Linked DNA regions of Homo sapiens: regions 2, 3 and 4 are each reported to be linked to region 1. The links are microRNA targets in miRTarBase. Many come from high-throughput screens and were not tested one by one. Region 1 holds a microRNA gene; each other region holds the end of a gene's coding sequence. Distances are from middle to middle.
What was found. The annotated mature microRNA hsa-miR-4645-3p reads AGACAGUAGUUCUUGCCUGGUU and lies in region 1 at 1,090-1,111, opposite strand. An mRNA with a match to its seed (bases 2 to 7 or 8) in the 3' UTR can be bound and repressed. Matches are read on the target gene's strand: a 7mer-m8 pairs with bases 2 to 8, a 7mer-A1 pairs with bases 2 to 7 and ends in A, and an 8mer does both.

Region 1 (3,201 bases):
CTGACTCTCTGTATGAAGCATGTTCACACGGTGCGGTGCTGACTCTCTGTATGAAGTGTGTTCACCTGGTGCAGTACAGGCTCTCTGCATGAAGCATGTTCACACAGTGCGGTGCTGACCCTCTGTATGAAGCGTGTTCACACAGTGCATGTGAAACCAGAACCGACAGTCGAACCCAAGCAGAAGTCTTGACCAAGCACTTCCCTCCTGGGAATGCACCATGATATCACCACACCGAAGTCCAGGCTGGCAAATAGGGACATTTAAGTGACATTTAAGCTCGTGGTGGCCCTATGAGGAGTCATTGCTGACTGAGATGGGATTTTAAGGTGTTGCCTGCCTGTGTGTTCTCAGACCCTCTCCTGAAGCCCCACCCCTTCCCCTGATCCTCTCCTGGGACCCCCCTCCCCTATCCCTGACCCTCTCCTGGAGCCCCCCTCCCCCCTCCCTGTCCCTCTCCTGAAGTCCCCTCCCCTGACCCTGTCCTGGGACCCCCTCGCCTTTCCCTGACCCTCACCTGAAGTCCCCTCCCCTTTCCCTGACCCTCTCCTGGAGCCCCCTCCCCTCTCCCTGTCCCTCTCCTGAAGTCCCCTCCCCTGACCCTCACCTGGGACCCCCCTCCCCTTTCCCTGACCCTCTCCTGGGACCCCCTCCCCTTTCCCTGACCCTCTCCTGGAGCCCCCTCCCCTCTCCCTGTCCCTCTCCTGAAGTCCCCTCCCCTGACCCTCTCCTGGGACCCCCTCCCCTTTACCTGACCCTCTCCTGAAATGCCCTGCCTGCACCATTGTCTTATATTTTTCTCATGGTTAGACTGGGGTTATGGTTTTTTCTGGGAAAGGCCACAGAGGTAAAGTGACATCTCATTGTGTCATATTCAGGGTCCATGCCATCAACATGACTCATCAGTGCTGACGCGGTGATGACCTGGGGGACGCAGTGTTTCTCAGGTTCCCCCACTGAGCCTCTGCAACTCCAGTAGTGACAAACCGCTCCACCCCCCGCCATCCATTTTCTTAATTGTTCAATTGCTAGTATCACATTTCATCAAGAGACGCATAGCAGAGTCCAACCAAGACTCCATGATAGAGAAACCAGGCAAGAACTACTGTCTCGTCGCAACTTGAGGAGACAATATTTCTTGCCTGGTTTCCCTATCATGGAAACTGAGTCCCCCACAGTTTCGTTTCCTCAATCGAGCTAATTACTGAGGTTGCTTAGCAGCCTCCGGAGTGAGCACAGCGGAAACTATCATTAGGGAACTTTGAACGTTTCTGTGAAATGCCAACAGGAAATGTTTCGGCATTTTCAAAATATTTAGAAAATTCCCTGTTCAGTTACAAAAGTGAATCTGAATCTTACCCTGCAGAAGTTAAACTGCTCCCTCTTCTGGATAAAATTACCTTTGTAATTTCTTTTTACAACCTACAGCCTATTGTGCTTGGGTTTCCAAATGGTTTAAAGTTCCCTTGTCCCTTACTTTGTGTCAAGGGGGTGTTTGTGCCTTAAAGGGAAGATCCTGTGCCTTAAAGGAAACCAGAACTGATAGTCGAACCCAAGCAGAAGTCTTGACCAAGCACTTCCCTCCTGGGAGTGCACCATGATATCACCACACCGAAGGCCAGGCTGGCAAACAGGGATGTACACGCAGGGGAGACGAGAACTTCTCCCGTGAGAAACAGCACAGTCCAGCCATATGAACCCACAGCTCAGGAAGTATTGCTCACTTTTACTGTTCTCTCTTAGGGAAGGGCATTCTCAAAACGTTTCCGCACAAGCAGACCATCCCTTTTATTTTCCCCGTCTGTCTCCTTTCCTTCTGCTTTCAAAATGTCTCAAGAGTATTTACAAGAGTTGAGCAACACAGGCATCTTTATCTGGGGTCTTTATCCACAGAGCAGAGGACAGGAAGTCATCACTACAGAGACGAAGCGATGTATGGTTTGACCCAGTGGAGGACTTTGTTAAGGTGGAGGTGTGAGTGTGGAGTGTAAACGTGGGACATCCAGGGCAGTGGAGGGTAACCACTGGAGAGGAAGTCTGGGGACAGTTTGGGAGCAGCCAAATATAAAATAAGCATTTCTGTTCTAAATCCAAATGAACATTCTACGCTGCTGTCATCTCCAGTATACCTCAGAGATCCTAAAGTTTCCTGAAGTTGTTTGGAAGTCACGGCCGATGTAAAGTGAAAGCGCACACATATCTGTAAGCTCTGAGCTCAGGATTTCACGTGAGGTCCTTTGTTCGGGAGGCAGGGGGGTTCTCCCTGTTGCTGGCTGAGGTCACTGCATTCATAGTGTGACAGGAGACAGCACAATACAGCAAAGCAGCTGGAGGGATTGCCTTGTAGAGTGGAAGACCTTCCGCAGAACAGAACGCTCTCTGTCCTGTTCTGCTGGAGAATGAAAAGGGATGGGTGGCCTGCGTGAAACCTCTTTATGGGGCTTGTGCGTTCTGACACTGTGACCGCCGAGGCCACAGCTGCCTTTGTTTCTTCCTCTCTGACCTCCATGAAGGGCTAGCGCACAAACTTGGACAGGGACGGCTCTATCTCTTGGGTGATATTCTGGAAAAGTCAGTCTTGACTTAGTCAAAGGCATCGGTAATTCCCCAACAGCTGAGAGCAGACTCCATGCTGCGGTTTTCTTGTAACTTGAATCGAGGAGACTTCCACATCTTTGCTATCCATTGCGCCTGGCTTTGTCCACTCGCTGACTTCTTCATATATAAGCTCATTTTCCACCTGGAAGAAAAGAGGAGAGAGCCTTAGGGCCCCAGCATTGGGTCCGCACCGAGGCCTACACTGCTCCCCCCATTCCCACCTAGGACCATGGCATCCCAGTCCTCTCTCCCTGTGGGAGGCTTTCACAGAGGTTCACATGGGCCCAGGCCACTATGATTTTCTGAGTCTCCTTGTTTAATAAAGAAAATGAAGTGCCAAATATTGTGGTATGTTTTAAAATTTTGTATTTAACAAGTGATCTTTCAAAAATGCAATGCAATCTAATTGCGCTATTCCGAAGTTAAGCATAGGATTTAGAAAACATTCTTATGGCATTTCTTTCATGGAACATGAGCTTAACTTTTATCATTAAAGTAATTTCTGTCCGTCTTTTCAGTGTATCTGTCTCTGTGACTCTAAGTATAGTAAGATTACTAGGAAATAATTTCAACATTTTAACTTTGAGGCCCTATGTGAGGCCC
Region 2 (3,000 bases), not on the chromosome of region 1:
TTTTTGTGATCCATAATTTTGTCTTGATACATTTTACCTAGAATTTTAACAGTAGGATTTTTTTTTTTTTTTTTTTGAGATGGAGTCTCACTCTGTTTCCCAGGCTGGAGTGCAGTGGCACAGTCTCGGCTCACTGCAACCCTTGCCTCCCAGGTTCAAGCGATTCTCCTGCCTCAGCCTCTTGAGTAGTGGGATCACAGGTGCCTGCCACCACACCCAGCTAATTGTTTATATTTTTAGTACAGACAGGATTTCACCATGTTGGCCAGGCTGGTCTCAAACTCCTGACCTCAGGTGATCCACCCACCTTGGCCTCCCAAAGCGCTGGGATTACAGGTGTGAGCCACTGTGCCTGGCCAACAGTAAGATTTTTTTAGAGTTCTGTCTTAATGTAGACACTAGCTAACAATGTAATTTTGAAGAACTGAGAACTGTGGTTAATTTTGGTTTTTCTTTTTCAGTCAAGTGCTTCTGCTCCTGATGTGGATGACCCAGAGGCATTCCCAGCTCTGGCTTAACTGGATGCCATAAGACAACCCTGGTTCCTTTGTGAACCCTTCTGTTCAAAGCTTTTGCATGCTTAAGGATTCCAAACGACTAAGAAATTAAAAAAAAAAAGACTGTCATTCATACCATTCACACCTAAAGACTGAATTTTATCTGTTTTAAAAATGAACTTCTCCCGCTACACAGAAGTAACAAATATGGTAGTCAGTTTTGTATTTAGAAATGTATTGGTAGCAGGGATGTTTTCATAATTTTCAGAGATTATGCATTCTTCATGAATACTTTTGTATTGCTGCTTGCAAATATGCATTTCCAAACTTGAAATATAGGTGTGAACAGTGTGTACCAGTTTAAAGCTTTCACTTCATTTGTGTTTTTTAATTAAGGATTTAGAAGTTCCCCCAATTACAAACTGGTTTTAAATATTGGACATACTGGTTTTAATACCTGCTTTGCATATTCACACATGGTCAACTGGGACATGTTAAACTTTGATTTGTCAAATTTTATGCTGTGTGGAATACTAACTATATGTATTTTAACTTAGTTTTAATATTTTCATTTTTGGGGAAAAATCTTTTTTCACTTCTCATGATAGCTGTTATATATATATGCTAAATCTTTATATACAGAAATATCAGTACTTGAACAAATTCAAAGCACATTTGGTTTATTAACCCTTGCTCCTTGCATGGCTCATTAGGTTCAAATTATAACTGATTTACATTTTCAGCTATATTTACTTTTTAAATGCTTGAGTTTCCCATTTTAAAATCTAAACTAGACATCTTAATTGGTGAAAGTTGTTTAAACTACTTATTGTTGGTAGGCACATCGTGTCAAGTGAAGTAGTTTTATAGGTATGGGTTTTTTCTCCCCCTTCACCAGGGTGGGTGGAATAAGTTGATTTGGCCAATGTGTAATATTTAAACTGTTCTGTAAAATAAGTGTCTGGCCATTTGGTATGATTTCTGTGTGTGAAAGGTCCCAAAATCAAAATGGTACATCCATAATCAGCCACCATTTAACCCTTCCTTGTTCTAAAACAAAAACCAAAGGGCGCTGGTTGGTAGGGTGAGGTGGGGGAGTATTTTAATTTTTGGAATTTGGGAAGCAGACAGCTTTACTTTGTAAGGTTGGAACAGCAGCACTATACATGAAATATAAACCAAAAACCTTTACTGTTTCTAAATTTCCTAGATTGCTATTATTTGGTTGTAAGTTGAGTATTCCACAGAAAGTGGTAATTATCTCTTCTCTCTTCCTCCATTAGAAAATTAGGTAAATAATGGATTCCTATAATGGGAGCATCACCACTTATTAAAACACACATAGAATGATGAATTAAAAAAGTTTTCTAGGATTGTCTTTTATTCTGCCACATTTATTGATAAACAGTGAAGGAATTTTTAAAAAATTTTTAAGAATTGTTTGTCACGTCATTTTTAGAAATGTTCTACCTGTATATGGTAATGTCCAGTTTTAAAAATATTGGACATCTTCAATCTTAAACATTTCTATTTAGCTGATTGGTTCTCACATATACTTCTAAAAGAAACTTTTATGTTATAAGAGTTACTTTTTGGATAAGATTTATTAATCTCAGTTACCTACTATTCTGACATTTTAGGAAGGAGGTAATTGTTTTTAATGATGGATAAACTTGTGCTGGTGTTTTGGATCTTATGATGCTGAGCATGTTCTGCACTGGTGCTAATGTCTAATATAATTTTATATTTACACACATACGTGCTACCCAGAGATTAATTTAGTCCATATGAACTATTGACCCATTGTTCATTGAGACAGCAACATACGCACTCCTAAATCAGTGTGTTTAGACTTTTCAAGTATCTAACTCATTTCCAAACATGTACCATGTTTTATAAACCTCTTGATTTCCAGCAACATACTATAGAAAACACCTGCTACTCAAAACACAACTTCTCAGTGTCATCCATTGCTGTCGTGAGAGACAACATAGCAATATCTGGTATGTTGCAAGCTTTCAAGATAGCCTGAACTTAAAAAGTTGGTGCATTAGTTGTATCTGATGGATATAAATTTGCCTCCTAGTTCACTTTGTGTCAAGAGCTAAAACTGTGAACCTAACTTTCTCTTATTGGTGGGTAATAACTGAAAATAAAGATTTATTTTCATGCTCACTTCTTAAAAGTCATAAAAACAATCAAATAGGATCATGTTTATTGTCATGTGTTTCCTGGTTTCTGACCTGTGTGCACACCCCTGTGTGTTTATAATTTTTAAATTGAATTTTATATGGGGTTTTTATTTGCTAAAAACCAGGCTGTTGAATCACATTTGGGAAGGGTACTTATCTTAATGACTAATGACTTAATTGGGAAAGTTGAATTCTTGTAAAATACAAAATCCAAGGACTTCTTGGATTTAATCTGATTGTCACTTCTTAGCAGATCACTTTTTTGATAATGAAAGTTAAGCATACTGAATGCTACTTTTGATTGACAAACT
Region 3 (3,000 bases), 30 Mb from region 1:
GCACCGCCTGGGCGGGGTCGGGGCCGTACCTGGGCCTGGGACTCCCACGGGGCCATCCTTGCCGTCCAAGAGAGAGTCTCCCGGAGTGGGCGGGGGCAGCGGCGACGAAGCGAGTGCGGCCACGCCCCCGTCCAGCAGACGTGTCTGGTCCCCACCCAGAGTCCACAAGGTGGAGATGGGCTTCGGTGGAGGTGGAGGAGCAAACTGAAGGGGCAGGCTACTGGGGTGGGGTAGCTTTCGGGAAAGGGAATAAGGAGCACGATGCAAGGGCGCTGTGGCCCCCGGGTGATCTCCCACCACACTTACTGTCTTCCTTTATCTCTGTGGACTTGTATATATTCTGGAAGGGGAACCACAGTTTCACCATCGCCCGCCCATTCTACTACTCAACCCCTCCCCCCCAAGGTATTTCCAGAACTAAACCCTTCCTTTCCCTCTGATGGGTACACTGAAGCCCCTGCTCCACAGAGTAGATTGCACATGGAGGGAGGGAGAGGGGGCGTGTTGAACATCCTGCAGTCACAGGGTCAGGGGTCAGGTGGTTGTAGTCTGTGCCTGAAGTCTGTGTTTGTGTTGTCGTGGAGACAAGGCCTTTGAGCCCCACCCTTGTCCTAGAACCTACCCCCTCTCAAGGATGCGCTCTTTATTTCTACCCTGTCTCTCCCCGCCACCCCCGACTTCCCGTGGAAATTCCCAACTCGGTTCTCATGGAGGAGTGGGTGGAGACAAGGAGGGAGTAAGTCGTAGGAGTACAAGGTTTTTATTTTTTTTAACAGTGATTAAAATATTTATTGGTCATTTACTTGGCTTCCCGATAACCCGTGTGTTTGCTGGGGACGCGGCACAGATAGGGGGAAGCCGGAGTAATGGTTTTCGGGCAAGTGGATGTTGGAGAGCACACACAGGAGTTGGGGGGCGGGGGAGGGCCTGGGGTTGGGGAGGGCTCGAACTCGGGGCTGCTGGGTAGTCCAGGAGGGCGCGGTAAGGCTGGGGTGTCCTGGTGAGAACTGGAGAGGATCTACCCGGGTCCCTGCCTGGCCAGTGGGGAAACACCGGTCCCCCAGGCACCTTCACCTAACCAGAGCGGGGATTTCCACCGCCCCTCATGCCGCCCTTTGGAGGAAAGTGAAAGTGAAAGGAGGAAGAGGAGGCTTCATGGCTGAGGAGGTCGCAGCGCCATGAAGTCCCTGTCTCTGCTCCTCGCTGTGGCTTTGGGTGAGCGAACCCCGCGACTCATCGCCCAAGAACTAGAGGGAAGCGGAGGGAGGTGGCCCCACTGGAGCCGATGCCAGGGTGGGAGTGGGGCAGGTCACCAGACATACAAACCGCTCCTCACTCGCGTCCCTATACGCCAGGCCTGGCGACCGCCGTCTCAGCAGGACCCGCGGTGATCGAGTGTTGGTTCGTGGAGGATGCGAGCGGAAAGGGCCTGGCCAAGAGACCCGGTGCACTGCTGTTGCGCCAGGGACCGGGGGAACCGCCGCCCCGGCCGGACCTCGACCCTGAGCTCTATCTCAGTGTACACGGTGAGTCTCTAGGGACTCGCCGCCCCCCTACCTCTGTCGCCTCCACCGAAACCCCCTCCTCTTTAGATCCGGCAGTGACCTCAGGCCTCAGCTTCCCCTTTGTAAAGTGAGTCTCACTACGGGGTAGTCTGTGCATTTGAAGTTCCCCGAACGCTGCCCTTCCAGCCCCTTTCCCGGCGGTGACTCTACAGCTGCAACTTCCTTCTCTACACTCAGACCCCGCGGGCGCCCTCCAGGCTGCCTTCAGGCGGTATCCCCGGGGCGCCCCCGCACCACACTGCGAGATGAGCCGCTTCGTGCCTCTCCCCGCCTCTGCGAAATGGGCCAGCGGCCTGACCCCCGCGCAGAACTGCCCGCGGGCCCTGGATGGGGCTTGGCTGATGGTCAGCATATCCAGCCCAGTCCTCAGCCTCTCCAGCCTCTTGCGACCACAGCCAGAGCCTCAGCAGGAGCCTGTTCTCATCACCATGGCAACAGGTAGCTGGGGAGGGGAGGTGGAGAAGGGTGGGTAGATTCTAAGGGTCCAGATCAGCCGGTGGTCTCGCTTTATGGACTTGAGCAAGACATTTCGCCAATCGGGGTTCAGTTTCCTTTTTTTGTTAAGAGAGGTGGTTTGGCTAGAATGAATCAATCTCTACCGCTCCTTCTAGCCCTCACCCAGTTAAAAAAAAAAAACAAAAAAAAAACTGCAGCTTGGCAGGGGGTAGGGGGAAAGCAGGGCCGGGCAGGGGGGTTACTTTCTGGTGTTTCGAAGGGCGGGGCTTTGAAGAGGTGGGGTTTCCCGACACCAGACCTTGAGAGACTTGTCAGGTGATGCGAGGTGGGAGGGGTTCAGAAGCAGGAGCGTTTTTTCTCTGCTCTTCCCAGATCTGTGTCTTGCTCTGCACCCTCAGCTTTGCGGGTCACTCTTTCAAAACCCAGCACTCTATCCCCACCTGCGCCCACACCCGGCGCTGCGGCAATCCGCAAAGCAAAGGCTCTTGCACTCTAGCGCGTTGACCTTGCCTGACAGCCCCGTGTAGGGATGTGCTGCCGCTCTGTGGTCCGCAAACAGGTGGGCTCGAGTGGGCGGATGGACGCGGCTGGAGATTGGATAGCTCCTATTGCACTGAAAGGTGCATTGCAGTTTGAGGCCCAGGAGTCAGAAGCTTTTCTAGGCTGGGACGTGGGAGGGACTGTGCAGATAATTCAAGAATGAGGAGAGTCTGACCTGGATATCTGGGAGCTCTCCCTCCTGGCAGCGGAGGCGGGGTATTCCGGGGTAGAATACCGGTAGAGTTCTTAGCTTTTCTATCTGGATTTTATGTCAGCGACACAGCCCGATGGACAGGGCAACCCCAACCAATCCCTGCACCCTCCCTTCCCTCCACCCTCCTGAGAATTACCCACAGAACCAGGGAGACAGACTTGAAACCCACGCTGAAACCCTCACCTCTGCCTATACCTCCATTCTTAGTCTCAAGCCCCCACCCTG
Region 4 (3,201 bases), not on the chromosome of region 1:
AAACAGCCCAGGCCTAAGGAAGAGCGGCTTTATGAAGGAGTTTCCAAGACAGGTGAGAGATCACACTGTGAAAGTCCAACATGTGAGGGTTCACGCGATAAGCGTGGAGTACAGAGCCAGAACATGTGAACGGTAGCTACACAGTGATGGACAAACACAACTTATTCCACAGCTGGTAAAATACTTAGAATATATCTGAAATTATCTAAACACTTGCTATTCTGTCAAATAAGAGAGAGAGAGAAAGGAAGAGAGATAAACAATTTTCCTTTGAACAGTGTGGTACGAAACAAAAATGGGATTCTTTTGCAATGCTAATTTCAAAGGTTTGTTTATATTATTAACAACATGAAGATCCTGTAGTGAGGGAGGGTGTTTTTCCCAAGTCATTGCAAAAGACTCATTAAAGACCAGCTTCGATGCCATTTAGAAACCATTTCCCATCAATTCCAGTGAAACATTCTTGAAATATTAGAATCCTCTTTACCAGGGAAAATAAAATGTCCCTTTAAGCTTACAAACTATTAGGGAAGAAGACTCAAAAATAACTAAAATGTGCTACAAAGTGAAAATGTTTTTTTCTTACAAGAAACTGATGAGATGAGTTGAAATATCTGATGATGAAAATCCAGCCGAGGAACAATTGGAGAACCATCCGGCTAGATTTCCCCTACTGAGTATGGACTTTGAGCATGTGCATATAGACAGAAGACTCTGACATATGAGGAATGAGTGAGAGGCAACATGAAGTCCCCACTGCAAAGACCCTGAATGTCATTAATCCAAAATAACTTACAGAGCCCACCTGCCATTTCAATACTGTGTCATCTCTGTAAATCTGGGTATATGAGAATATTTTGAACTCAACAATATTCATTATTAAACATAGAATTCTTCTAACACTTTCTGAAATTGTTTCTTTAAATTAGAAACAAAGATAAGGGTAAAATCACATATGCTAATAAAATTCTATGTTCCTTAGTCCCCCTACTATATTTTCTTTCATAGATCCGAAGGTTCATTTGTAAGAACACGTTTCCGTGTCTACCCAGGACTTTATCACATGCTCAGAGGCATCAGATGAACTTTTTCAGTCGTGTTCTTTTTTTCAATAATTATTCAACCAACTGCCATAGGTTATGTATTGGTTGTTTGTGAGAAAATTATATATTTTTTTCCAGGGACCTCTGTGAATGGTGTTAGCACACTCTTAAATGCTTATCGATGATCAGTGAAGAGACCACAGGGATCCCAAAAACCCTTACTTCCAGCTATCCTGACTTCCCAAGGTACATCTTGAAATGCTGTTGCCTCCATGCAGGGAGAGGTGAGGGTGAATGGACTGGGTGGGTGGGAAGGCAGCACTGAAATAAAAGAAAAGGCACCAGAGCTGAGCATCTCCTGCTCCCCTGGCCTGGAGGCAGCAAGTAACAGCAGAAACTGGGGGTAGCACTTCGTGTGGACCTGGCAGACTCCAGAAAGCCAGCTTTACATGGTATTAATGCTCGTGGTAGGGGCTGATTGCCACACATTGGGTATATCAGAGAGATGAAAAATAAAATGATTATCATTAATATCAGTTCTTTCAATATTTTCAATAACATAAAAAGTTGCTTTTAGTTATAATTTAGTATTTTCAATACTTTCACTAATTGACATCATAAATGTTCAAGATTTTTCTTTGCAGGGAGAGAGAAGGCATGGAGTCTATCCAAACGCTAAGTAAGTGGTTGGTTATTTTACAGACTGGCTCTTCAGGACGTCACTATGGACCAGACAGGTGGACTTCCAGGCCAACAGCATGGCAAGGAGCTTCCTGGAATGCCATGAAATCCAAAAGTCAGAATAAGGTGAGTTTTGCAGCAACCTGCAGAACACATCCACGCTTCATTGTGCCTGAGCCTCTGCTCCGCTGCCTCCACCAGCACCAGCAATGGCACAGAAACTGCATCAGGAGCAAGGTGGGGTGCCTCACAGTCTACTGTAACTTCTGCCGGTGTGGACCAGGTGGAATTCCTGGGCTTCCCAGGCAAGATGAAAACACTCAAGCTGCTTCCAAGAATCCCACAGCTTTATCCAGATTTGGAAAGTTGGGCAATCCATGGTGAATAATTGTTTGGCCACATTCTTTTTCTTCATTTTATGAAATATTATGGACCTATGCACTTCTTGTGGAAGGAGCAGGTCTTTCAGAGAAAGTGCCTATTTTCTTGAATTACAACATCATGAAGATTTACACTCCAAAGTTCTAAAGAAAGACTCCTTCCAATGTGGGTGGCACATTTATAAAATAATGCTCAAAAAACAAACCAATGGACTTGTCAGAAAAATAGGATGAACACAATTAAAAACTTCACACCCTGGCTCATTCAACAATGGTCAAGATTTTCACGATGTCTTATTTCAATTTTTGTTGCTTTTAAAGACGTGTATTTTTGGCAGCAATGGGACACTCTGGTGGCTTGAAATGCACTTGAAATGTATCCAAACTTCGACTCTGAAGCCTCAGAAACATGGGCAGTCATGGGGCACAGGCCTTGAGGAACTGGGGATTTACAAGAAGCCAAAAACATGAAAGCTGTTAGTACTCATCATAATTATTGAGATCTGTAAAGTAGGCATTAGAATAGGTCTTCCCAGTGAGATGTGGGTTGAAGTATTTGTTTCTTTCCTCTAGGATCAAGTTGTTTTTGTTAAATGCCTGGAAAATATATTAAAAAAAAACAGGTTTAAGAATGCTGAGTAGCATTTCAGAAATAATATAACAAGGATGACTATTATGTTGAATTTGAGCTCTCTGCTAAGACTCCATATTTTAAAATATGTTTTCTTATTTATTTGCTTCCCCAGATTATTTGCCCCATGGAGGACTTGCCTAATTACCAGAATAAGGTTGGCAGTTTGTGATATCTTCTGGTTAAGTTTTCAACTTTAGTTATGAAGTTACCACGAGAAGCAGGAGGTAAGAAAATCTAAATCTAAATCTCTAGAAAACCTAAAACTATAATGATTTCAAATTAACAGACACTTTGACTGTAACTGAATATATATAACTAAATTCGTATTCATATAACTGAATAGATATATAAGCAGCTTTCAGATGACCATGGGTGAGGACATTTATCGGAGACCTTGATGGAACTTATTTAAGTAAGGGCCTCAGGTTTCAAATGCCTTAATTGCTTTTCATCCTGAACTTAT

Region 2: the mRNA of SERBP1 is a reported target of hsa-miR-4645-3p. Seed matches in the 3' UTR shown: 7mer-A1 at 620-626.
Region 3: miRTarBase lists ZBTB22 as a target of hsa-miR-4645-3p. Seed matches in the 3' UTR shown: 7mer-m8 at 304-310.
Region 4: the mRNA of SEMA5A is a reported target of hsa-miR-4645-3p. The part of its 3' UTR that is shown has no 7-base or 8-base seed match.

Annotation. Positions count from the first base shown.
Region 1 is chr6:2,852,951-2,856,151 of GRCh38, forward strand. It overlaps MIR4645 (microRNA 4645), which reads right to left and starts at 1,157; the gene lies at 1,081-1,157. It also overlaps the pseudogene SERPINB9P1. RefSeq lists enhancers at 877-1,617, 2,194-2,253, 2,314-2,443.
Region 2 is chr1:67,410,725-67,413,724 of GRCh38, reverse strand. SERBP1 (SERPINE1 mRNA binding protein 1) reads left to right here. Exons shown (of 8, transcript NM_001018069.2): 8 at 462-3,000. The coding sequence ends at 518. Among named protein-coding and RNA genes, the nearest start is that of SERBP1, 18 kb to the left of the region's middle.
Region 3 is chr6:33,312,220-33,315,219 of GRCh38, reverse strand. It overlaps ZBTB22 (zinc finger and BTB domain containing 22), which reads left to right. Exons shown (of 2, transcript NM_005453.5): 2 at 1-802. The coding sequence ends at 208. It overlaps TAPBP (TAP binding protein), which reads left to right and starts at 1,142. Exons shown (of 8, transcript NM_003190.5): 1 at 1,142-1,215; 2 at 1,356-1,526; 3 at 1,743-2,003. The coding sequence starts at 1,179. RefSeq lists an enhancer at 1-588.
Region 4 is chr5:9,040,316-9,043,516 of GRCh38, forward strand. It overlaps SEMA5A (semaphorin 5A), which reads right to left. Exons shown (of 23, transcript NM_003966.3): 23 at 1-2,701. The coding sequence ends at 2,582. Among named protein-coding and RNA genes, the nearest start is that of MIR4636, 12 kb to the right of the region's middle.